Homo sapiens: one gene and its partners. The protein of the gene in region 6 purifies or fractionates together with the protein of the main gene of each other region. This does not show direct contact. Each region holds a gene or a part of one and is shown on either strand. Other genes may lie near its edges.

Region 1 (2,678 bases), on a different chromosome or scaffold from region 6:
CTTGTAGGGGGGTTGCCCCCTAATCTCTGGGAACCCACTCCCCACCCAGCCAAGCAGAGCCAGCTCTGAGCCAACCCAATGCTGGGACTGAGTGTCCACGCCATCTGTGGCGTCCAGAGGAGATCAGGGCTCCAGGGACCTAAGCAGGTGTGAGGGCAGAGGGGAGGTGTGTGCAGAGGAAGAAGGGGAGGGGAGGGCTTGGGGTCAGGAAGAGGGCAACGGTGGCCACAGAGAGAGGACAGCAGCCGGGACAGGGACCAGGGACCTCGGGACAAGCTCGAGGGTCGAGCTGAGACTGGGGCAGGGCCCAGGTGACGTCCTCACCTTTCACCAGCAGCTCCAGGAAGTCACTGTGCTCAGACCATCCAGGGGGCTTATAATAGAGGCAGCGATAAAGCCCGGCATTTCCTTCACTTACTGAGTCAATGTGGAATCTGGCCTCTGACTCAGATGGACCAAGTCGAAACACATTATAACTATCTTTGTACTTGGCTCTATCCTCCCTCTCCAGGCGGAATGTTTGAACCCCAACCGGGCCCCGGCACATGAAAGTCACATGGCTCCCCGGGGAGATCACAGTGCCTGGCTCAGCCGAGATGGAGGGTCTGGGAAGGGCCCCTAAGAGGGAAGCAAAGAAGGATCTCAGCGTCCACTGTAGGAAGTCACCATGCCACACACGTCATTTTAGGATCACAATTCAGGGATTTTAGCAATTTTATAGAGTTATGCAGCCACGACCACAGCCCAACCTTAGAACATTCCCACGCCTCCTGCACCTTCTACGTGCATGTGATTCTCATCACTGCAGAGTTTTTTCCCAGTTGACAGTGAGGACCCTGAGACTTGCTCACAACTTGGGCCTTGCTCAGGGTCACGTGGGAAGTGTCGGAGCAGCCTGGAGCCCTTCATGCCTGCTGCAGAGCCCAGGGCCACTTTCTAGAGGGACAGAGGGTGGGAGGGAGGCACACGATGGGGATGACAGGGTCATTCGTGAAGGACAAGGGACAGGGAAGCGAGGGCTCTGGAGATGGCTCGTGCTGGGGCCTGAAGGGCACTGGCCGGTCCCCGGGTGGGACTGAGTGTGGGACGGGGGTTGCCAGGCTCCTTTGAGGGTCTGGTGGGGTGAGGGTGAAGCCCCCAGCCCTGATCTGCTCACAGCAGATGCCCAGCCCGTGACAGGTCCCCATTGCTAATGCAGATCTCTGTGGAGACACCACCTCTGGGTTTTCCTCTATAGTTTCTACTTTCTTCTCAGCTTAATTTGCATTTCCTTGTTATTAAGGCTCTTGAAAAACCCCATTTATCTCAACTGGGCTTGGGGTGGAGGAGGAAGGGCGGGTTTGACGCCCTGAAACAGGAAGGTTGTGTCAAAATTAGCAAAATCCCTGAGCGGGGCAGAGAGCTGGCAGGGCTTCAATTCACTCGTCCCGTCTTCATTCATTCCTTATTATTGACAAATTAAAACTGCATGTATTTAAGGTGTACAACATGATGTTTTGATACAGGTATACACTGTGGAATCGCTGAATCAAGCTAATTAATATAACCTCACTTTGCGTAGTTAATTGTTGTGGTGAGAACATTTAAAATCTGCCCTCTTAGCGATTTTCAAGCGTATGATATATTGTGATTAACTCTAGTCATTATGTTACACAATCCTGAACTTACTCTCCCTGTCTAGACGAAATTTTCTATCCTTTGACCAGCATCTCCCCAAACCCACCCATTTGTTCATTTTTCTTTCTTTTAACCATATCTCAGTTACTTATCAATCTGTTTAAAGACGCTTTTCATGAGCTGCTAATTCCGCAAATGTGAGAAACACATACAGGATGCCTGCCCTTTGGAGGTGGACGTCTAGAAGGGAGGACAGATATTGATCGAAGAATTGTCCAAATCTGCAGCTGCGAACTGCAATAAGTTTCCTGTGGGTAAGTGTGCAGGGATCTAGGGGACAGGTGGGCGGTGGAGCTGACCTCCTCTGCAAAGTCAGGGGAAGCTCTCTCTGAGCTGAGAGCTGAGGGAGGAGTAGAAACTCCCTGAGCTGAGCAGACAGGGGACACCAGGGCACTCAAAGTGGGAAAATTCCTCAAAGGAAACAAGGTTTTAGTTAGAGAGGAGAAATCAATTCAAGAATCATCATGTACAACACGGTGACTACAGTTAATAACAATGTATTACATTATTGGACATTGCTAATCCAGGTGATTCTAAGCGTTCTCACCACAAAAAAATGATTCGCACAGGAGGAATGCCTACGTTGCCTAGCTCGATGTAGCCATTCCTCGCTGTGTGCAGAGTCCACAACGTCATATTGGACATGACAAATACATGCAATTTTCATCGGTCAATTTTAAACTGAATTAATTAACTTTTAAAAATCAGACCAGGCGCGGTGTCTCACACCTGTAATCCCAGTACTTTGGGAGGCCGAGGTGGGCGGCTCACCTGAGGTCAGGAGTTCGAGACCAGCCTGATCAACATGGTGAATCCCCGTCTCTACTAAAAATACAAAAACATCAGCCAGGCATGGTGGCAGGCACCTGTAATCCTAGCTACCTGGGAGGTTGAGGCAGGGAGAATTGCTTCAACCAGGGAGGCAGAGGTTGCAGTAAGCCAAGACCGAGCCATTGCACTCCAGCCTGGGCAACAAGAATGAAACACCATCTCAAAAAAAA
Region 2 (2,999 bases), on a different chromosome or scaffold from region 6:
AAGTTACATAAGAAGTAGTGATGTTTTGATGCTCCCTTGTAGACAGCAACTAGCCAGGCAAATGGCCAGGAATACAATGCTATTTATTTGTTTCACTCCAAGACTTATCTGCAAGGGTGAGTTAAGATGTCTTTCGCAAGCTATTGACTAAGGGGGAAGAGATTTTGTTTGGGAATGAATAGAGTTGTTGGTTTTTTCCTGGTATGATAGTCAAAAAATTATTGGAACACAGAGAGCCTACAAGAGATCCATGATTCTTAAAGGACATTCCCTATGTGCACACATTGTCTAGTGGGTTCAAATCGCTAAAAAACCAGGAGGGCTCTTCTGACATACTCAGTACTGCCCTCTCTGCCACCTTTTCCTCCTGGGAATGGTCCTGAGAGGTAAAGCAGAAGCAGAACAACTCCCTGCGGCCAGGTCTGCTCTGTCACTTGACTCCCAACAAAGAACCCTTTTTAAGTCATCCCAAAGGTCCCACCGTGGCACCTTTAATAATTAAATAACTTAAGGAAATAATTATGTATGGAATAAATTCAGGAATCTACAAGTTTTGCATTCAAAACTTTCTGGGAATAGTTTTGGCTTCTGGCTGTGCCAAGGGGGAGATTTCCAGCAGTCTGCACCATGCCTCCTTCTTTGGCTCAGAGCCCATGAGCCTTGATCCCTACCAGTGTCCCTCACCCAAAGGCCTGGACAAGAACTGAACAAGGACCCACTGGGCTGTGGGCATAGGCACTCTTCACAGGGATTACATGAAACTGCATTTCCTCCCATCTCCTCTTCTAGGGGAGGAATATCCACTCTAGCTCATGCCCTGGAGCCTCCTCACCCTCCTCCCTTGGAGGATCACCTGGGCATGGACCTTCCTGTTTTCTGATCCTGCCCTTAGGGAAATACCAAGGCCTTATTCTCACATGGAAAAGTCAAAAACTGTAATTGCCACAGGGAATTAAAGGCCATTCTAAGAAAAAAATACAACTTTATCTTTGGGGTAGATGAGTGATAAAATCTTCTGTCTTTTGGGCTGATGTTCTGGGACATCTGGGACATCTGGGGTTTCTTCTGCCCCTGTGTCAAGAAGCCCAGGAGAAGAATAAGCAAGACTGAAGACCTCTGCATGCCAAACTGGCTATGACTCTTTCATGAATCTCCACAAGCTCTGCCTGGAGCTGGTGGGACTCTTTTGGTCATTACATGAAGAAACAGTAGTTAGTGTATGAGGGATGATGAATGTGCCCAGAGGGCCCCGTGAATTCAGATAAATGCATGGTGCTAGTGGGCCAATGCTGAAAAGGCCCTGAATGTCTCACTCTTTGAAGCTAGTGCCTTCTACTTCTTAATGATCTTACACCTCTGTGGGGCCAGAGACCAGAGCAGGATTTGTACTCCAACCCCCGCCAGAACCCCCATTGCCAAGTCTGAGAAACTCAGGATTGGGAATGGCTCCCGTAGGGCATAGATTTCACTTGGCCTTTTCCTGCCCAAACACATGCACCTTTGCCAAATCCTTCCCTCCAGTGGCTCAGATGCTTTTTCTATGTGCAAACTGTCTCAGACAGTCGTCTCCACTGGCTAATGTTGGTTCGTTCAAAGAGCAAATGAGGCTGGCAACCCATCTTGGTGCTCACCACTCACAGTGTTCTGTGGGTAGACCCTGCACCCCGGACGTGGCAAGGGCCTTCTCTCCCTCTCTCAAATCCTGGAGGGCCCAGCACACCCTGACTCATCCTGGAAATCACACTGACAGCTCTAAGTGAAGGCCTCAGAGCCACAGACCTGACTTGCTTAGAAGCACTAAAAGAGGTTTAATAAGGTCGAAAACGCTCCACCCTGGCTAATAAACAATGTGCTCTTAGGGCACAGAGAAACAATAGGACTTTAGGCACTAAAAAGTGACACTTCGCCCAGATCCAGCCTGGGAGAAGACCAGAGAGAAAGCGGGTGGGAAAGTAAGAAATTCCCAGCCCTTACTGGGTCCACACCCTACACAGGTCGGAGGAAGGTGCAGGGGTGATGGAGGAGAGTATCCTTCAGAACACGAGTCTCGGGAGCCTGCCACCACACAATGCAGCCTTCCTAGCTTTCCAAGCATCCTCTCCATCTGACACTCAGTACGGTCTGGATCAAGTGGGCGGCCAACCCTAGGAGTTTAGACTGGGCTCCCTTGATGCTTCTGTGTTCCCAAGAGAATGCCTGGGGAAGCCTGGGGTAGGGAAGAAAAGATTCTCTTTTATTTTGGAAACAAATCAAAAGGGGATTAGGGAATGAAGCACCTTAAGCAATGCCGTCTTAAGACTTCTTTTTGAGACCTTAGGGTCTTCGCAGGCATAACTTTGGCTCAACATTTCCCTTCTAAAAGCCAAGAATGGCCAGCAAGGGAAGGGGTGGGGAACAGAGGGTGGGAGGAGGGAGATCAGGGGAGGTCGGTGCTGAGAGGCGGTTCCTGCCCTCCTCAGCTGCTCCACCATAAGAAAACGCTGCTCCGGCCAGCACAGGGCGCGGGAGGGCCCGCTCCTTCTCCCTGGTACATAGGCATTATCTCTTTTTTAAAATCTGTATATAATATATATATTTATATTCTGTATATATATATATTTATATATATATATTTATATGGTCTATGTACATGTATTGCACAGGCCTCTTGCAGCCACCCTGTTCCTGCCTTGTCAATGATAGCGATTCCTCTTTTCTTCACTTTCCGACGTGTAGTCGCGGGACCTGATGCCGTTCTGAAGGTTGATGAGCGAGTCCTTCATCTGCAAGACAGAAAACCCCACCCCAGGCCTGGGTCTGCGCTTTTAGTGGGATTCTCCACCGAGCAGCCCTCTCCCCACACCCGCCTAGGGCAGGCCTCCAACCACGCCATGGGGCTGAAAAGAGTCGGGCACCTAAAGCAAGGGTGGTTCTCAACACTGTTTCAAACAGAAAGGGGACAGTCAGGCTGGGTGCAGTGACGCACACCTGTAATCCCAGCACTTTGGGAGGCAGAGGTG
Region 3 (3,500 bases), on a different chromosome or scaffold from region 6:
GTAGACACGAAGGCCATCCAGAGTCCTTCACAACCTTTCAAGGGAAGCCGACACTTGGCCCACCCAGTCTCCGCTGTCCTCTCCTGTCCTGCAGTGTGATAAGACGCGTGGGCCATGGACACCAGCTCTTGGTCCAGCATCTCTCCTAAGGCCATGCTCCACTTCTCCCTGCCTCCAAGTGGTGCCTAGGTCCCCAGCAGATATTCTCAGCGGACAAAGTGAGAATGGAAAGACAAACTGGAGGGCAGGTTGGGAGCTTGGTCTGCTCTTAAGGAGGCAGCTGCAAAGCCACTTGCAGACCCCACTCCTTTAGGCTCGTGGTGAGGCTGGATCACTGTCCGCAGTTTCAGGTGAGGTGCCCAAGCCACTGAAAGGAGGAATCGCTCGTCTGTCCTGCAGGACCAGCCTCCAGCAGGGCCACGGCTCAGCTTCAGCTTTCTTGCCTTCACATCTCACAGTGAACTAGCTCCCCCAGGGGCCCCAAGGCCCAGGCTCAGCCTGGCCAGAGCCAGAGCTCCTGCTATTACACCCTCGTGGCCCCTCACCTCTCGGCATGGTCCGGAGGCGACGGCAGCTCCTCAGTCCCCTCCCACTCCTGCTGTTCCCCCTGGACATGGGGCACACGACTCAGGACCAGGCCAGAGGCAAAGGCAAGGAGCAGGCAGTACGCCAGCAAGAGTCCCTGTCCACGGGAGCCCATCTTCCTGCCGGGCCCTGGTGGGAAAGAAACACACAGGGAAGGCACCGAGTTAGGAAGGAGCTGCACAGAGAAACAGCCTGAAAATTGGGGAGAGAAACAGCCTGGAAATCGGAGGTGCTTCCCCAGCCTCACGCCACTGGGAAATGCTGCAGTTACACAGCTTCTGGGAGGACAATCACTCTCACACACCCATGCATGCATACACGCACTCACGACGCACTCACGTGCACACACGCACATGCACACACATTCACATACATGCAACCCCCACACATGCACACACTCAACACACATGCAATCCACACATGCACACACAGTCACATACACTCACATGCAACCCACACATTCACATGCACCCAACACACATGCAATCCACACACATGTAATCCACACACATGTACACACAATACACATGCACAGTCTCAACAATGAAACCTACACACATGCATACATATACCCACATCACATGCACACTCATGCAATCCACGCACCCATATGCACACTCTTAACACACATGGAATCCACACGCTCACATGCACACAGTCAACACACATACACTCACACTCACATGCACATACATGCACATACACAGTCCACACACATGCACTCACACATGCAATCCACATGCTCACATGCACTCAACACACATGCACAACTCACATGCACACATACCCAAATCACATGCACACTCTCAACACACATGCACACACATGCATACATATACCCATATCACATGCACACAGATTCACACACACATGCAATCCACACACATGCACACTTTTACATGCACTCACACACATATACCATCACATGCACTCACATGCAATCCAACATGCACACACATTCACATACATGCAATCCATGCACACATGCACACACATACACACATGCAACCCACACACACATGCAACCCACACATGCACACACATTCATATACATGCAATCCACACACATGCACATTCGCATACATGCAATCCACACATGCACACTTTCAACACACGTGCACACATTAACATGCACACATATACCCACATCACATGCACACTCACGTGCACGCCCGCATACTCTCAACACATTCACATGCATGCACATCCACTCATGCACACATGCGCTCACATGTACACACACCTTCACATGTGCGCACACACTCTGCCCCCAGAGCCTCAGCCAGTCAGGCTGGTGTTGAGGGGTTGCTGAGCAAGGTGCTGTCTCTGCCCACCCAGCCTCTCGGGAAGGAGAGTCCATCAGCCGCTGGCCCCACAGACAATTGTATACCACCCCTCTTAGGACAGTAAGAAAAATCCCAAGCAAGCTTTGAATGATCATCATCCCTTAACTCAAAGCAAAGCTGGCTCAATGACCAGGTCCTTCACCGGTGGGTAGGTGGGTAGGAAGGTGGCTGCAAGCTGCTTTCTGGCCACCAGGCGGCGCATCAGCAGGTGTCCTTGGCATCTACTTTAGGGATGTGCCAAGCCCAGCCCCACAGAGCAGTCATCCTTCCAGGAAGCCAACCCCACGTCTCACTCCCAGAGCTTTTGGCAAAAGCTTGGGGCAGGACCCCCTCCATCCAGTATTGGGACAGTCCTTCTAGAAAGGGGTGCTCACGGAGGTGGGGAGTCCAGGGAGCCCGCGAGGGGCGGCACTTGGGCCCACATTAGGCGAACGCCCACCTGCCACCCTGTGAGCGGCTTGCTCCCCTCGCCCAGGAATCTGGCATCAGGAGTCGCAGGCCCAGCCGTTTCAGGTGGGCCGAAAACCTCCCCACCGAGGGGCACAGCGACTGTGGTCAACTCTAACCCCTCTTTGTTCACCAAAATGTAAAACTCGAAATGTCGCAGGCCCCGTGGGAACACCTCATTCAACACACAGCCGCCCAGTGAGAAGGTGGGTGAGAAGCGTCCCTCACTCCTGGCTGCCAGGCCGGCGTGGACTCCAGCTCTTTCTTGAGAGGCAAACAGTGAAAGCAAGGGCTCATCTCCAAAGGCCCTGGGCCAGACTCTTTCTCCTCTAACTCCTCTTATGTCTAAGGAAAGTTAAAATCCTGACAGATTTCTTTCTCTGCCCATATTACACACCAAGATGACCGCGACGTCTTACTCATCTTGGGAAGCCGGGAATTTCTTCCACACACACCGTCGCTCGGGGGCTTTGGAGCCTCTGCGGGGGATGTCTGTAGCGGGCTTTTTTTTTTTTTTTTTGAGATGGAGTCTTGCTCTGTCACCCAGGCTGGAGTGCAGCAGTGTGATCTCGGCTCACTCCGCCTCCTAGGTTCAAGTGATTCTCCTGCCTCAGCCTCCCAAGCAGCTGGGATTACAAGCATGCGCCACCACGCCCAGCTAATTTTTGTATTTTTAGTAGAGACGGGGTTTCACCACGTTGGCCAGGCTGGTCTGGAACTTCTGACCTCAAGTGATCCACCCACCTCGGCCTCCCGAGGTGCTGGGATTCCAGGCGTGAGCCACGGCCCAGGACTTTAGTGGGCTCTTGAGTGAAGTCTGAAGGGCTCCCCGCAGAGCCCTCACGCCAAGTCAACATTGCAGGGGAAGATCTGGAGTCCAGGGCTCTCCCGATAGAGCCTCCGAGGTGACAGTGAGGAGAGCAAGGCTGGCCCCCCCGAACCTCTCTCCTCCCCTGTCACACATACCTACACCCAGTCTTCACCACCTTGCATGGCCCACGCCCCATCTCTGCAGTGGCTTAGCTGGAGCCCCCACCTCCAAGTGTCCTACCAGCCAGCTGTCCCTCCCATGCGTCAGGGCCCAGAGACCGTCCCAATGACCAAGGAGCTGCTTAGGCCACA
Region 4 (4,260 bases), on a different chromosome or scaffold from region 6:
CAGGAGATCTTCTGACAACGGTCCTAGCCTTGTTGGAAGTAGTTAGGAAAGGGGAAATGGAGGACATAACAATAATAATAATATAATAGAATAATGGCTAGTGCTTATTGAGTACTTACCATGTGCTAGGTAAGCACCTAAGATTACCTCTCTTTTAACCCTGAGATAGGAAATTTCCCAGTTTGCAGATGAAGAAACTGAGAAGTCACTTGCCTAACATCATCACTAGGCCAGCTGGTTGGTTCATGCACTCTTTGATTTGAAGCCAAGCGGTCTAAGTCCAGAGTTATCTTCTTAAGCCCCCACTGCATTGCCTCTGGACAACACAGACTTCCATTTGTCAGAGGTGTTCAAACCAGGCACCTCCATCTTGAGTGGGGGGCTGGGTAAGATGAGGCTGAGACCTGCTGTGCTTCATTCCCAGGAGGGCAGGCATGCATTCTTAGTCACAGAATGAGACAGGAGGTTGGTAGGACTGATTTCACCATATACAGTTCGGGTCACAAAGACCCCTATGATAAAACAGGATGCAGTAAAGAAGCTGGAGAAAGCCCACCCAAACCAAGACTGCAATGAAAGTGACCTCTAGTCGTCCTCACTGCTCATTATATGCTAATTATAATGTATTAGCATGTTAAATACATTAGACACTCCCACCAGCGCTGTGACAGTTTATAAATGCCATAGCAACATTGAGAAGTTACCCTATATGGTCTAAAAGGGAGAGAAACCCTCGGTTCCAGGAACTCCCCACCCTTTTTCTGGAAAACTCTTAAATAATCCACCCCTTGTTTAGCATATAATCAAGAAATAACCATATGTATACTCAGTCCAGCAGCCCATTCCCTGCTCTGTCTATGGAATAATCACCCTTTTATTCCTTTACCTTCTTAATAAATTTGTTTTCACTTTACTCTGTTGGCTCGCTCTTGAATTCCTTCCTGTGCAAGCCAAGAACCCATGTGGCCCCCAGGCTGAACCCCAATTTAGGGGTTCATCCTGTGACCCATTGGCTGGAAAAGGTGTAGGAAACCAAGTAGCTTTGTCATTGTCCCAAAGCTCCACTCTCACCCCCACCCAACAGCCACATCATTATGCCAGCCAGCTCCAGATCCTTGAAAAAAGTAGCCCTCTAAAAATGTATGGAGGTTTCCCAACCCATCTATCCAGAGGGGGCTGAGACCTAGCTGTTTGGAAGGGTGAGAGTTGGGAGAGGGTAGTTGTCACCTCCTGAAGGAGTTCCTAGGGTGACCAGAGGGCATGGGCGTCTTCTCCCGGACAGGTTGAGGGGGAGGCTGGAGGGCAGGGTGGCTGAAGCAACAAGGGAGCAGATATCCCCTGGACTGGAAAGGACATCTTGATGGGTCCCTGGCCTGCCTCTCTCCTCAGGCCCTACTTACGCAACACTGCGGCCAGGCTCAGTGCCCCTCCAGCCAGGCGCGCGCACGCTCACAAGACAACATCTGAACCGCGGTTTGGGAGCCCAGCCAGGAAGGAGGGCTCTCTGGCCGCTCTCCGACCCGAGCGGAGCGCAGTCCGCCCCCGCCCCACGCGCCGGGCCCTCCAGCGCCTGCCCCACTCCTCCTCCCTCCTGCCGGGCCAGCTCTCTCCTTCTTTTCTCCGACCCTTTGGAGAAGTTCGAGGAAACTTTCCGAGGCCCAGCCCTTGACCAATTTGTCCATTAAGCCAGGAGAAAAAAGATGCGCTCTCTGCTTCCCTCCTGCCCCAATCACTTCCCAAATGGCCCCCTCGAGCTGTTTGTTTAAAGGTCCCTCTCCGGATCTGTGCCGAAGGTTCCTAGAAATTTGCCAAGCCCCGCTTTGACCAAGCTCCCTCCCATCCTTATGCGCGCATAAGTTTACCCAAATTGTGTGCCAGAGCACCGTTCCCAAAGTCCTACATTAGCAAAAACGACCCCTGTAGCTGTTTGCCAAAGGCTTACCTAGACGCTTGGCAAGAGCCCTTAGCAACTGCCCAGATGTGTCCAAAAGTTGTTTACAAAGACCGCCCCCCCCCCCCGCCAAATGTCCCAGATACTAGAGGATGTCCCCGCTATTTACATAAGAGTCCCTTTCCAGTAGTTTGCCAGGTCACCCCTCTCCCACTCTCTGGCTTGTTTTTCGCCCCACTGCTGTATGCTGAAGGTTGCCAAATTGTTTATCAAAGGTTTTCTTTGCTTACAAAAGATCCCCCACCGTTTGCAAGAGATCACTCCAATAGCTTGCCAAAGACCCCCCAAGCTGTTTACCGAAGCCCCTCCCCCACGCTGTGTGCCCACCGCCGAGGGCAGGGGGAGAGACACCCCCATCCTTTGCCTCCGAAGTTTGTCTAAACGTGGTTCCTTGAGGCCAGCGCAGCAACTCACCACTGCCAACTCTTTGTCCGTTTTGGGGGCGACATCGCCGGGGAACTTGATGATGGGCGACGGCGCGGCGGCGGCGTGGCTCAGCAGGCAGCCCAGGAGACAGAGCGCCCTCAGGGGACCCGTGAGCGCGCCCCGGGCCATTAGCGCCTCCATCGTAGCGCTCCCTGGCCCCGCGCGTCGCCCGGGGGTCGCTGGCTCGGTGCGTGTGGCCGCCTCGCCGCCTGGTTGGAGCCTGCTCCGCGGCGCAGGGCTGCGCTCCGAGGGTCCGCTGGCTCGGTGGCCTGGGGTTTGCCCGGCTCAGCGGCTCATGGTCCGGCCCCCGCGCCCCAGCCCCCGCCGCCGCCGCCGCCGCCGCAGGTCCTGGCAATCCCTTTGTATGTTTAAAGCCCCAGATGCGCAGCCTCCAGCCACCGCCTGAGGAAGTCTGGATGCAGCGGAAACAAGGGAGGGCAGCCGCCAGATGTAGCCGGCTGGGCTGGGAGGGAGCTGGCAGAGCGGGGCTGGGGGCGGGGGGCGCACTCGGGCCCGCCCCTCTCTGCCCCACCCCCCTACTCGCCCTCCTCCACTTTTCTCCTCTTTTTTCCTTTCTCCACCTCTTTTCCCCGGCCGCCTGCTACTCCTGGCCTCTACGTCCACCCTCAGTGCACGACCTCGTCACCCCACTTGCCTCTCTCGCGATCTGGGCGCACAGCCTCAGAACCCCCTGCTGGGAAACATCTGTCGCTCTAGGCCCTTGACGTCCTGAGGTTAGAGAGCAGCGGTACTACTAGGAGGGACGCCGGCTTGGCTAGGACACCCTGCACTCCCTGGGGTCAGGAACGGGAAGGAATGGTCAGAAACAGATGATCAGCCACAATGATAGATGGTCAGAGACAGAAATTTTCGATATTTAGGGATAGGGACAGAGAGATTCTGGGATGAACAGAGATGGAAAGAGAGAGATGGAAACAGAGACAGTGGAAGGTCCCAGGTTGCTTCCTTACCTCTTTCCTTCTGCAAATGTGTAAGCCTTAACTTGGCCTCGTATAGTGCGAGATGCTAGATACACCTTGGGAAATAGAGCAGTCAGGGGCCCCGCGTTAGAGACGTTGGAACCAGAGCGACTCCATCTTGAACAGGGGGCTGGGTAAAATGAGGCTGAGACCTGCTGGGCTGCACTCCCAGGAGGGTCCGCATTCTCGGTCACAGGATGAGATAGAAATTGGGCAAGACTGGTTTAATAAGATAGAGGTCACAAAGACCCCACTGATAAAACAGTATGCAGTGAAGAAGCCAGCCAAAACCAAGATGGCAAAGAAAGCGACCTCTGGTCATCCTCACTGCTCATTTTACGCTAATTATAATGCATTAGCATGTTAAAGGAAGCACCCACCAGTGCCATGGCAGTTTATAAATGCCATGGCAATGTGGGGAGGTTTACCCTATATGGTCTAAAAAGGGGAGGAGCCCTCAGTTCCACGAATTCCCCACTCACTCTTGAATCCTTTCCTGCGCCAAGCCAAGAATCCATGTGGCCTCTCAGGTCGAATCCCAATTTTGAAGTTCTCCCTGTGACAACCGTCTCTGAGGAATGTCTTCTCCCTCTCTCAGGAAAGACAGTTGAGAGATAAGCTGTGATGGGGAACTCCAGCAGGCTGTTGGGAACGCCTGACTTCAGCCCCTAAACTAGTAAAGACAATCAAGGAAGGCTTCCTGGAAGAAGTGACTTCTGAGCTGAGACCTGAAGAGCTAAAGAGGTGGAGTGCTGGGTGGGGAATATGGGGAATGTTTTAGGGAACATTGACAATGGCCCAGAGATGAAAAACAGCAAGAGGCACTGGAGAAGAAAGTTTTTTCTATCTGAAAAAGGTGGGGCACAGGGTGAGGGGATGGAGCTGGAGGGGTCAGTAAGGACC
Region 5 (3,500 bases), on a different chromosome or scaffold from region 6:
TAGAAGCAAAGTCAAAAGCCCCTGTCCAACATTGTCTACAGTTACACCCCCAAGGGTTATAGAGCAAAGTCAAAAGCCCCTACCCAACACTGTCTACAGTTACACCCCCAAGGGAGGAGGGGGAAAGAGAAAAGAAAAAACCCCAATAATGTTACATAGAAAAAGAAAAAAAATCCTACCTGCATTAAAATGACTACAAAAATTGGAAGCACTAGTGTCTCCAGTTGAGAAGGAATAGGGCAAGAAATCAGGCACCACAAAAAATGTGAATGTAATAACAACACCAAAGGATCACACTAGCGGTCAAGCAATGGTTCCTAGCCAAAATGGAAACTCAGAAATGACTAAGAATTCAAAGCATGAATTGCAAGGAAGCTCAATAAGATCTAAAAGAAGGTTGAAAATAGACACAAACTTCTAGAGTAATCTGGGAAATGAAAGAAGAGATAAACATCTTCAAAAGAAATCAATGAGATCTTATGGAATTGAAAAGCTTACTTAAGAAATTTCAAAATACAATTAAAAAAATTATCAATTGACTGGACCAAGCAGAAGAAAGAAATGCAGAGCTTGAAGACTGGTCCTTTAACCCAGTTAGACAAAAATACAGAAAAAAGAATTTTAATAAATGAACAAAGTCTTTGAGAAATATAAGATTATGTAAAGCAGCCAAACCTACAAGTTACTGGCATTCCTGAAACAGAAAAAGTAAACAACCCAAAAAACATATTTGAGGAAATAATTCAAGAAAATTTCCCTAATCTTTGTCCAGATACAAGAAATCCAGAGAACACCTGTGAGATACTGTACAAAATGAACATCAATCACCAAGGCATATAGTCACCAGAATGTCCAAGGTCAACACTAAAGAAAAAATCTTAAAGAGAGCTAAAGGAAAAGGTCAGATCATGTACAAAGAGAAACCCATCAAGCTAACAGTAGCCTTCTCAGCAGAAACACTACAAGCCAGGAGAGATTGGGGGCCTATTTTCAGCATTCTTAAAGAAAAATTCAAACCAAGAATTTCATATCACACCAAACTAAATTTTATACATGAAGAAGAGATAAAATCTTTTCCAGGCAAGCAAGTGCTAAGAGAATTTAGTTACCACCAGACCAGGTGACAAGCAATCCTTAAGGGAGCTCTACACATGGAAATGAAAGAAAAATACCTGCTACCACAAAAACACTGTTAACATAGCCAAGAGATCCTACAAAGCAACCACACAATATAAAATATGAAGAAACCAGCTAACAAATTCACAATATGATCAAAACCTCATATATCAAATATTAACCTTCAGTGTAAACCTCTAACCACCCCGTTTAAAAGACAGAGTGACAAGTTGGATAAAAAACAAGATGCATCTGTCTGCTGTCTTTAAGAGACCAATCTCATATGTAATGACACCCACAGGCTCAAAGTAAAGGGTTGGAAAAGGATCATGCAAATAAAAAACAAAAAAGAGCAGGGGTCATTATTCTTATATGAGATATAACAGAGTTTAAACCAGCAAAAATAAAAAGGACAAAGATGTGCATCACATAATGAAAAAGGGTTCAATTCAACAAGAAGATTTAACTATCCTAAATATATACATACCCAACATTTGGACCACCCAGATTTATAAAACAAGTACTTCTACACTTACAAAAAGACTTAGCCAGTCACACAATAAGAGTGGGGGACTTCAACACCCCACCAACAGCTTTAGACCATCAAGGCAGAAAATGAACATAGAAATTCTAGACTTAAATTCCACACTTGACCATTCGAACCTAATAGACATCTATAGAATACTCCACCCAACAACCAGAGAATTACATTCTTCTCTTCTACACATGGAACATACTCCAAGATTGACCACATGCTAAGCCATAAAGCAAGTCTCCATAAATACAAAAAAATAGAAATTATATCAACCATACTCTGACCACAACAGAATAAAAACAGAAGTCAATATCAAAAAGATCTCTCAAAAGCACAAATTATATGGAAATTAAACAATTTGGGCCAGGCGTGGTGGCTCACATCTATAATCCTAGCACTTTGGGAGGCTGAGCCAGGTAGATTGCCTGAGCTTAATTTGAGACCAGCCTGGGCAACATGGTGGAAGCCCATCTCTACTGAAATACAAAAAATTAGCTGGGTGTGGTGGTGCACGTCTGTAGTCTCAGCTACTCAGGAGGCTGAGGAATGAGAATTGCTTGAATCCGGAGTGGGAATCGCTTGACTCTGGGAGGCCAAGGCTGCAGTGAGCTGTGATGGTGCCACCACACTCCAGCCTGGGGAACAGAGTGAGACCCTCTCCTAAAAAGAAAATTGAAATCAGCTGTTTAAAGGAAAAAACTAATAAGCTGGTTTTTGAAGGCTATTTTACACATGGCTTTTTAACTATTAATGGCCACTTTGGAAATGGCTAATACAGCTGACTGGTATGAGATATTATGGGTTTCAGACTAGGAGTTATTAGTTATAATTCTGTAATTATGATTATATTGCTGAGTATATAAAAAATGAGTATAATACATAATAGCACAAGCCAGGCATGGTGGCTCATGCCTGTAATCCCAATGGCTTGGAAGGCTGAAAATGGATGACTGCTTGAGGCCAGAAGTTTGAGACCAGCCTGGGTAACACAGTGAGACCCTATCTCTAAAAAAAACAAACCCCAAACAAACTTAGCTGCCATGGTGGCATGTGCCTGTGCTCCCTGCTACTGAGGAGGCTGAGGTGGGAGTTCTTGAACACCAAAACTCCAGGCTGCAGTTAAGTCACGATTGTGCCCTGCAGTCCAGCCTGGGCGATGGAGCAGGACCCTATCTAAAAGAAAAAAAAAAAAAGAGTAGTACAAAGGTTTGTAACTTTGATTAGCGTACTGAACATAAACAGAAGGTTTTAATGATAAAGACATCTGGAAACTAACATGAGACCATGATGACAGAGTGTCAGATTTATGACTAAAGAGGTTTGCTAGTGTTGGCTGAAGAATGTGTTCCTTTGAGAAAAATTGTATTTGCACGAATAAAACCATTTGCATCAAAAGAAATGTCAATATCTCAATGAAAATTTACAAACAAATCCCTAGAAGTATAACAGGAAAACTGTTAAAGTAGTATAGCAGGCAATTCTTAATGGGTTAGGTCAGAAAAAATATAAAATCTCACATACATAAAATAGTTTTACATAGATGTCACAGAATTCTTGAATTCCCTGAAGCTCCAGGTGTCAGGTTAAGAACTCTTGTTTTAACCTCTTTTCCCATAGATCACACTAAAACATCTTATTCTTATTTCCTTCTTTGCCTCTGCTGTACCTTGCTGTTAGAAACTCCAATGCCCCTGCTAAGAGTATAACACAGGAGGAGCCCCTAAGTAAAATTCTGAATGCATTTTCTAACTATTTTTGGGAGTCAGGTTTCAGCGTTTTAATTCAACTCTACTTAGATATGCTATGCACTACATAGGTTCCAGTTCCCTTGGATAGATTACAAAAATCT
Region 6 (3,500 bases):
GGCTGTGTCCCCACCCAAATCTCATCTTGAATTGTAGCTCCCTTAATTCCCTCGTGTCATGGGAGGGACCTGGTGGGATGTAATTGAATCATGGGGTGGGTCTTTCCCATGGTGTTCTCATGACAGTGAATAAGTCTCACGAGATCTGATGGGGAGTTCCCTTGCACACACACTCTTGCCTGATACCATGTAAGAAGCAGCTTTGCTCCTCATTCACCTTCAGCCATGATTGTGATGCCTCCCCAGCTATGTGGAACTGTGAGCCAGTTAAACCTCTTTCCTTTATAAATTACCCAGTCTCAGGTATGTCTGTATCAGCAGCATAAGACTAGACATGTATACACAAAGCCCCCTTCCTACCTCTCTGAGCCTGCCTGACTTCCAGCCCTTCCTCCCACATGATGACACCAGTGCCTGTCACCCCAGCTGGCCTTTGTTTAGTATTCTGCTGGGTGGAGTCACCTGCCTCTACAGCAGTTGATGAACAAGACAAAACAGCACCCCCAACCCCGAGGGAATCCGCAGAGGCTGGCCCTCTTAAGAGTCTTTTCTCTCTGGATAGTGACAAAGACCAAAGGATGACAAGGTGACCTAGGGGAAAAATCACGAGTGATGTGATGCCATGTAAGTTACCCATTGCAGTACTCTTAGAAGGTGACCCACAGCCCTAAAGAGTTCCTGTCCCTCCAAGTATATCTGTCCACACTTCACACGTGCCCTTGAGCAGAGCCCAGCCCAGAAAGTCCTTTCCAGGCCAGGGCCAGGTTACTCCGCCTCCTCCTGTAGTTGATGTGAGCTCTCACTTTGCTTTTTCAGATTACGACGTTTGTGCCGAGGCTCCCTGTGAACAGCAGTGCACGGACAACTTTGGCCGAGTGCTGTGTACTTGTTATCCGGGATACCGATATGACCGGGAGAGACACCGGAAGCGGGAGAAGCCATACTGTCTGGGTGTGTTGGGAATGTGCTTGTTTCCAGCTTCTGAACATGTGCCTTGTTCAGATGGTTCTGTCCTTGGTTGGACCCTTCAGTTCTCATACTTGTTGGATGGAGTTGTGTTTGATATTATCCTAGGGATAGCTTATCACTGCCCTTCATCACAATTACTAAAACCAATTAGGCCCAAGGAATTCTTCCGGGATTTGGTACCAGCAAGGTCCTAATTGGCAATGAGACATAAGAGCAGGAGAAGGGGAACATGCCCAAATATAAACTAGAATAATGTAAAACAGAGTATAAGTGGTCAGAAAAGTAAAAACGCAGACAGAACAAAACAAGAATAAACATTCTCTTAGAAGATGGTTGGGGAAAAAAGGAAGTAGCCATATGGCAGACAGGTTGGGAGGAAGTCAGAGGGAGCTGAAGCCAGCCACCTGGGCTGCAGCTGAGCAGAGCCTGCACCATCCACGGCACCAGCCTGTTTACTGCCACCCTCATGAACTGGCTATCCCAGCCGTGCACTCCTTGAGGTTCTAAGGCAGCTTTATGGCTCATTTTCCATTGGAACCATGTGTCTGAAAGTGTGGTCAGTTCATAACTAACCCAAGAAACATCTGGGGTCCTCGTTTGGGGAAAAAAAAAAAAAACCTGGCCTTTTCTCCACACCTAATGAATCACAACTCTGAGAGTGGGTCCAGACGTGCATATTTACACCAATGCCTCTAATGATTCCTAGGCATGGTGAGATTTAAGAATCAACTGGAGGATGAACTGCCAGAGACTAGCAGGTAGACCTACATGGAAGATAAACCAGCTGTCATGAGCATCCCTCTTTCTCTATCCTAGCAGGGGCTCTAGGGAGCACCATTTCTGAGAAGTTCTAACCGTAGGTCCTCTGGTTGCTCCCTGTCGGCATTTGGGAATGGTGCCCCACAATGCCAGACAATGGGATTGTGACTCCCAAGTGAATGGGGCAGGGATCTCTGGCCTCTCCTGCAGAGAAAGGTACAGGCCATTCCATGAGGCTCAGGTCCCAGGCACAAGGCTCTTACTTCACTTTATAGCAGCTACTGTACCCTATTCTTTATGCATTTATTTTTGAGACAGGGTCACACTCTGTTGCCCAGGCTGGAGTGCAGTGGCGTGATCATGGCTCACTGCAGCCTCAACCTCCCGTGCTCCTGTGATCCTCCCACCTGAGCCTCCTGAGTAGCTGGAGCTACAGGCATGCGCCACTACACCCAGCTAATTTTGTTCGTATTTTATAGAGATGGGATTTTACTATGTTGCTCAGTCTGGCCTGGAACTCCTGGGCTCAGCTTCCTGTCTTGGCCCCCCCAAAGCGCTGGGATTACAGGCATGAGCCACCGCACCCAGCCCCCTGTTCTTTTTGTTTGGGGGTTTGGGGACCAGCAGAACTTGGCTTCTACTAAGAGTTCTATTTCTATCTCTGATTTCAACTTCATCTCCTCTCTCTCTGGGCAGTACAGGCAGCATCACATGTAGGTTTAGGGCAGGGACACCTGGGGAAAGGCAGTGAGCCTGAGGAATTGCAGAGGAGGATGCAGCTGCAACATCCGGTCTACAGGTGACATAGTTGGTACTGCCGGGGAGCGTCCAGATGACCACCCTCCCCTCAGCGTACACAGGGACTGAGTCACTGGCAGCTTGTGCAGGGAGTGGCTGGGAAGTTGTTGCCATCCTCAAGTTCAGGGCTGGCCTGTGTCTACGCAGCACATGTGCACAGTCTGGGGCTGCATGCCACGGCTCCCACCCACTGCTACCCACTGTCTTCAACCAGTGAACAGGAAATGGAATTGGGCCTCCCACTGTCCTCGTGGTGGGAAACGTTTTTGTTTCCACCATGCGGCAGGGGAGCAAGTCCATGATGTGCATAGTTAACATGGGCTCTTCATGGGGACTTGTTTGATGGTCCCATGGCTCATTTCCACAGCTCATGAGGGGTCTGTCTGGGTTCTTGATGAGGCAGAAATTTCCTGGGGAAGACTCTTTCCATTAGACCCATTATGACTATTTTCTTTTATTAGAAGTATCTTTTCCCAGGTGCCATCATGGCTTTTAACTGGGAAGGAGCCATTCCTAAGTGACCTGTGGGGTCATCGTCATGCTGTTTGGAACCTATACCATAAAGGGAAACTTAAAAATCCCCAGCACAGTAGGGCACTCACAAAAAATCATCTCTATAATGTTTGCTTCTCTGAGTGTTGTCACTGGTGATCTCATTGTCATTTCTAAGCAGCCCTCTGAAGTGTTTAGGGCAGGCTTCATTGTTATTGTTCTGTAAGTGAGATCTCTGAAGGCTAGCAGTCTAAGCCACATGACTTGCGAGTGGCAGAGCCACAGCCAGGAACCCCATCACTGATCAGCCTGTAACAATGGCCACTTGGCCAAAAGTGCTGTTTTTATGGATGACCCACATTTCTAGCTCCCTACTTTATTCCAGGCTGCTCTGATCAAGGTCGGCCCAAGTGTCCTTCATTGTTATTAACAGAGAGGCAAAGCCCAATGTCATCTGTTGTATTAGAAGTGAATTCTCAGAA
Region 7 (3,500 bases), on a different chromosome or scaffold from region 6:
GTTCCACTCATCCTCCCCACCCACCCCTCCAAATCTTCAGAAGTATCTACAAAAAGTACAAAATCCTTAGGTCTTATATGGGAATCAGTGAAGTTTTGGCTGAGTTCTGATGGATAAAATAGAGTTAGCCCACACAGAAGAGAGAAGAGTTGACACCAGAGTTCTGTAAGTAATAATACCAGTTTTAAAGATAAAGAAACTAGGGCCAGCAGGAATAAATAACATGCCCAGAGCCACAGAATGAATGAGGGTCAGAGCAGGAATCAAACACAGGTCTGCCCTACATCACAGCCTACTAAGCTCCTTCTACTGCAATGCCTCTCAGAAAACAGGCAATAATTCACATGACAGGCAGGAAACAGAAATGGCAGAAATACATACGTACTGCCCTAAACAAATACGTGTACTTAAGCTGGGCATATACATAATAAACCCTTTTGTCCATCCTAGCCAGGCCCCGTACCTGTCATTACCTCTGATTTCGTTCAATTAGTTCACTAATCTTGTCATTCTGTTCTTCTATCCGATTGCTCTTTTCAAGGATCTCTTGCTTCAATCTTTCATTTTCCTAATTTCAAAATATATGATGTACAATTTAAGTGTCTTGGGAGAAAAGTGCCAGATAGAAGAGAATCAACTTGAACTGACAGGTGACATTGTTAACATGTTTTGAGACAAAACACTAGAACTTATGTCCACATGTATGTTAAAACAACACATCAGATTACACCTGATGGATACAAATCACTAGGTCCAATGGATTGAGTGAATAAATGGCTAAAAAAAGAAGTGAAATTCTGAAGTATGGTCAAAAAAGCAATGTTTCCTTCAGAATATATAGTGATAAGTCACTTGGACAGAATTAAGCCATAATGGATTTTCTAGAATTGTCTAACCCAGTGTAGCGTTTATCACAGGCTATTTCTGGGGTGGAGGTGTTAAAGAGTAGTACCTCTGAGAAGAGAGGATGGGTAAGACCTTCAGCCTGAGTGGTATGTTCTTAATCACCCTCACCTGAATGATTCGCTGGATGTTGCTCATAATCATGCTTGTTTCCATTGTAACTGACATGCTAGGAATAAGCATGGAATTGCCAGCACTATGTTTCTGTAACTCTTCAACCTACAAAAGGGATACCAGAAAGACCTTGTGAGAAATTATAAAATGAAGAAATACAATTTACCCAAGATTTGACCCTGTTGTTAAGGGGGTTAATGAGTTCCTGGGACAATCTCTAACTGTTAAGTTAGAGTTTTCTCCTACTAACTGGATCCCAACATAATTATAACTATCCTTGTAGGGAAATAACCTCTCACTACTACCAATGCAGGAAATCAAAGAAGAGTTTACCTACAGTTCTGGCTGCTCCCTGTTTACATCCCCACTTTCAACATCACCCCAACTCTGACTCAGTCACCTTAGTCATGAGATGATCCATTTTATCAGCCACTTTGCTGACTGCCATTCGAATTTCAGTGTTATGTTGCCGGGCTTCAGTCATGAGAAATGAAGCCATATCACCTGATCCTAAACAGATACAAGCCAAAAAGAAACTTATGAAACTGGAGCAGAGGAAACTGTATGAAGAAAAGCTAGTAGCTCTTCCAGTAAAGAAAGAAATTAATACTTCCATACACTAGGAAATGCTATAGGTGACTTCACCCTGTCAGGAGAAGATATATGGGAGAGAGTAGAGGCAAAAGGGCTTCAAAGTAAACAATAACTAAGCCGTGTTCCTGCAAAATGCATCAAGGGCTACATCTGGTCCAAGGGCACAAATATGCCCACTTTGCACTGCCACAGCACCGGCAGCTCAGATTACTTTCCCGTTCATCCAACTGTATGCCAAGCATTGTACCAGGTACCAGGAATACAGCAGTAAACAAAACACGGCTTCTGCCCTTGGTGAGCTCTCAGTCTGGCTGGGAGACTGACATGTAAACAAATCATTACAAGAGAGTGTATTAAGTGCAAAACAATGGACCATATACTAGGTATAAAAGTAGCACAGAGAAAAGCACGATTAACTCTTTGGTGACACGCGTACACAGTTGTGTTTGTGGGAAGAGAGGAAAGAGGGACAGAGAATAGTCAGGGAAGGCTTCACAGAGGGAGATGACAGTTTTGATGGATGAAAAAGCGTATCCCAGATGGAGAAGGGCAGAGCTTCCAGATAAAGGCTGCATTCAGGAAATCCTGACCAGTCCAGAACCACAAATTATGTTGCAGGACATACTGGCTTCTTCCTACCACTGTCCTAATACCAAAGCTGATTACTAAACAGAAGACTAATAGCAGAACAAGGCAGGATTCCATCATAGCAGTTTACACTTTATCTTGGTTTGATTTTTTTACATTAGATACTCACATTTGTACATGCATACAAAATATCTGAAAAGTTACCCAAGTAACTGTTAACAACAGTTTCCCAAGGTCAGGGGGTTTATGGAGGGGAAGGACAGTAACTTCACTTTACACCCTTTTGTACTGCTTGACTTTTTTATAAAAGTCTCTTATTTTCATAATTTAAAAATGTTAACAGAGTAGCTTTCATTAGAGATACTAAACACCTATAGTATTCAACTTTCTCCCAATTTCCTCCAATGTTTTGCTCTTTTACTATTTTCTCTAAACTCTAGCTACTCTAACAGAGGAATTAAAAGGGCCAGGGGAGAAAATCCAAGGAAAAAAACACAGAATGTGGACACAAGGAAACATTGGGGGATGACGGAAATGTTCTAAAATAGGATTGTAGTGATGAATGCACAACTCTGCAAATTTACTAAAACACTTTTGAATTGCACATTTAAAATGAATGAATGTGTGGAATACATATTATATCTCAACAAAGCTGTTAAAAAAGAGAAGAAACAATGAGTAGAGAGCTGTTGGTGTGAAAATGAAGGAGGAGCAAGAAGAGGGAAAGCACAGCAAGAGCGGAAGATGAGAAACTGAGGGAATTACTCCCTACCTTGGAAATGGGGAGGCTGAGAGAGCGGTGCTGGGTACAAAGGCCGAACGGGCTGCAGCTGGGAGGTGACGGCAGATGCCTGGGGATAAGCGTAGGCTTGCATACCTGCATAGGGCTGAGAAACTGACGAGTTACCACTGGTTGATAAAACATTCATGTCTTTCTTTTTTGTTCACATTTTTCTTTGGTGGAATAAAGTGGATGAGCTGGGAGGAGACTCAAACTTACTGAAGCTAGAGATGGGTGAGATCTGGGTTTGGCAGTTGGTAAGGACTGCAGCAGGAGAGTTATCTATGTATCCCAGGGGAAACCAGTCACTAAAATCCTACCCAGAAACTGAAGAAAGTGTATCTTAGGTCACTACCCAGTCATCTGGTGAGATAATTAAGCAGGGATTCATTCCCCATTATCAGGCCTATTGTCTAAGAAGTTTTTAGATTAATAAACTCTGCTTAGCTTCCATTGAGTTTAAAGAAGAAGTGCTCACTGAGATTCCAAACCAAATCTGCCAATTTCCAAGGATGCCTCT

The links.
Region 1: the proteins of CCBE1 (region 6) and LAIR2 purify together in Homo sapiens (co-immunoprecipitation; one large-scale study listed by IntAct). This does not show direct contact.
Region 2: the proteins of CCBE1 (region 6) and GRAMD1B purify together in Homo sapiens (co-immunoprecipitation; one large-scale study listed by IntAct). This does not show direct contact.
Region 3: the proteins of CCBE1 (region 6) and C1QTNF1 purify together in Homo sapiens (co-immunoprecipitation; one large-scale study listed by IntAct). This does not show direct contact.
Region 4: the proteins of CCBE1 (region 6) and MMP2 purify together in Homo sapiens (co-immunoprecipitation; one large-scale study listed by IntAct). This does not show direct contact.
Region 5: the proteins of CCBE1 (region 6) and SLC25A31 purify together in Homo sapiens (affinity purification with mass spectrometry; one large-scale study listed by BioGRID and IntAct). This does not show direct contact.
Region 7: the proteins of CCBE1 (region 6) and FKBP15 purify together in Homo sapiens (affinity purification with mass spectrometry; one large-scale study listed by BioGRID and IntAct). This does not show direct contact.

Annotation. Positions count from the first base shown.
Region 1 is NC_000019.10:54,505,831-54,508,508, reverse strand, and holds part of LAIR2 (leukocyte-associated immunoglobulin-like receptor 2 isoform a precursor), read right to left. Parts: intron 619-2,678; coding exon 325-618; intron 1-324.
Region 2 is NC_000011.10:123,622,269-123,625,267, reverse strand, and holds part of GRAMD1B (protein Aster-B), read right to left. Parts: intron 2,763-2,999; coding exon 2,673-2,762; 3' UTR 1-2,672. UniProt on the Homo sapiens protein: Cholesterol transporter that mediates non-vesicular transport of cholesterol from the plasma membrane (PM) to the endoplasmic reticulum (ER).
Region 3 is NC_000017.11:79,041,169-79,044,668, reverse strand, and holds part of C1QTNF1 (complement C1q tumor necrosis factor-related protein 1 isoform 1 precursor), read right to left. Parts: intron 995-3,500; coding exon of another isoform or gene 701-994; coding exon 546-700; intron 477-545; exon of another isoform or gene 1-476.
Region 4 is NC_000016.10:55,477,738-55,481,997, reverse strand, and holds the start of MMP2 (72 kDa type IV collagenase isoform 1 preproprotein), read right to left. Parts: upstream 2,801-4,260; 5' UTR 2,519-2,800; coding exon 2,366-2,518; intron 2,001-2,365; exon of another isoform or gene 1,943-2,000; intron 1,466-1,942; exon of another isoform or gene 1,401-1,465; intron 442-1,400; exon of another isoform or gene 123-441; coding exon of another isoform or gene 120-122; intron 1-119.
Region 5 is NC_000004.12:127,736,900-127,740,399, reverse strand, and holds part of SLC25A31 (ADP/ATP translocase 4), read right to left. Parts: intron 1-3,500. UniProt on the Homo sapiens protein: ADP:ATP antiporter that mediates import of ADP into the mitochondrial matrix for ATP synthesis, and export of ATP out to fuel the cell.
Region 6 is NC_000018.10:59,466,924-59,470,423, reverse strand, and holds part of CCBE1 (collagen and calcium-binding EGF domain-containing protein 1 precursor), read left to right. Parts: intron 1-816; coding exon 817-951; intron 952-3,500. UniProt on the Homo sapiens protein: Required for lymphangioblast budding and angiogenic sprouting from venous endothelium during embryogenesis.
Region 7 is NC_000009.12:113,183,278-113,186,777, forward strand, and holds part of FKBP15 (FK506-binding protein 15), read right to left. Parts: intron 3,087-3,500; coding exon 2,972-3,086; intron 1,528-2,971; coding exon 1,418-1,527; intron 1,123-1,417; coding exon 1,015-1,122; intron 569-1,014; coding exon 474-568; intron 1-473. UniProt on the Homo sapiens protein: May be involved in the cytoskeletal organization of neuronal growth cones. Seems to be inactive as a PPIase. Involved in the transport of early endosomes at the level of transition between microfilament-based and microtubule-based movement.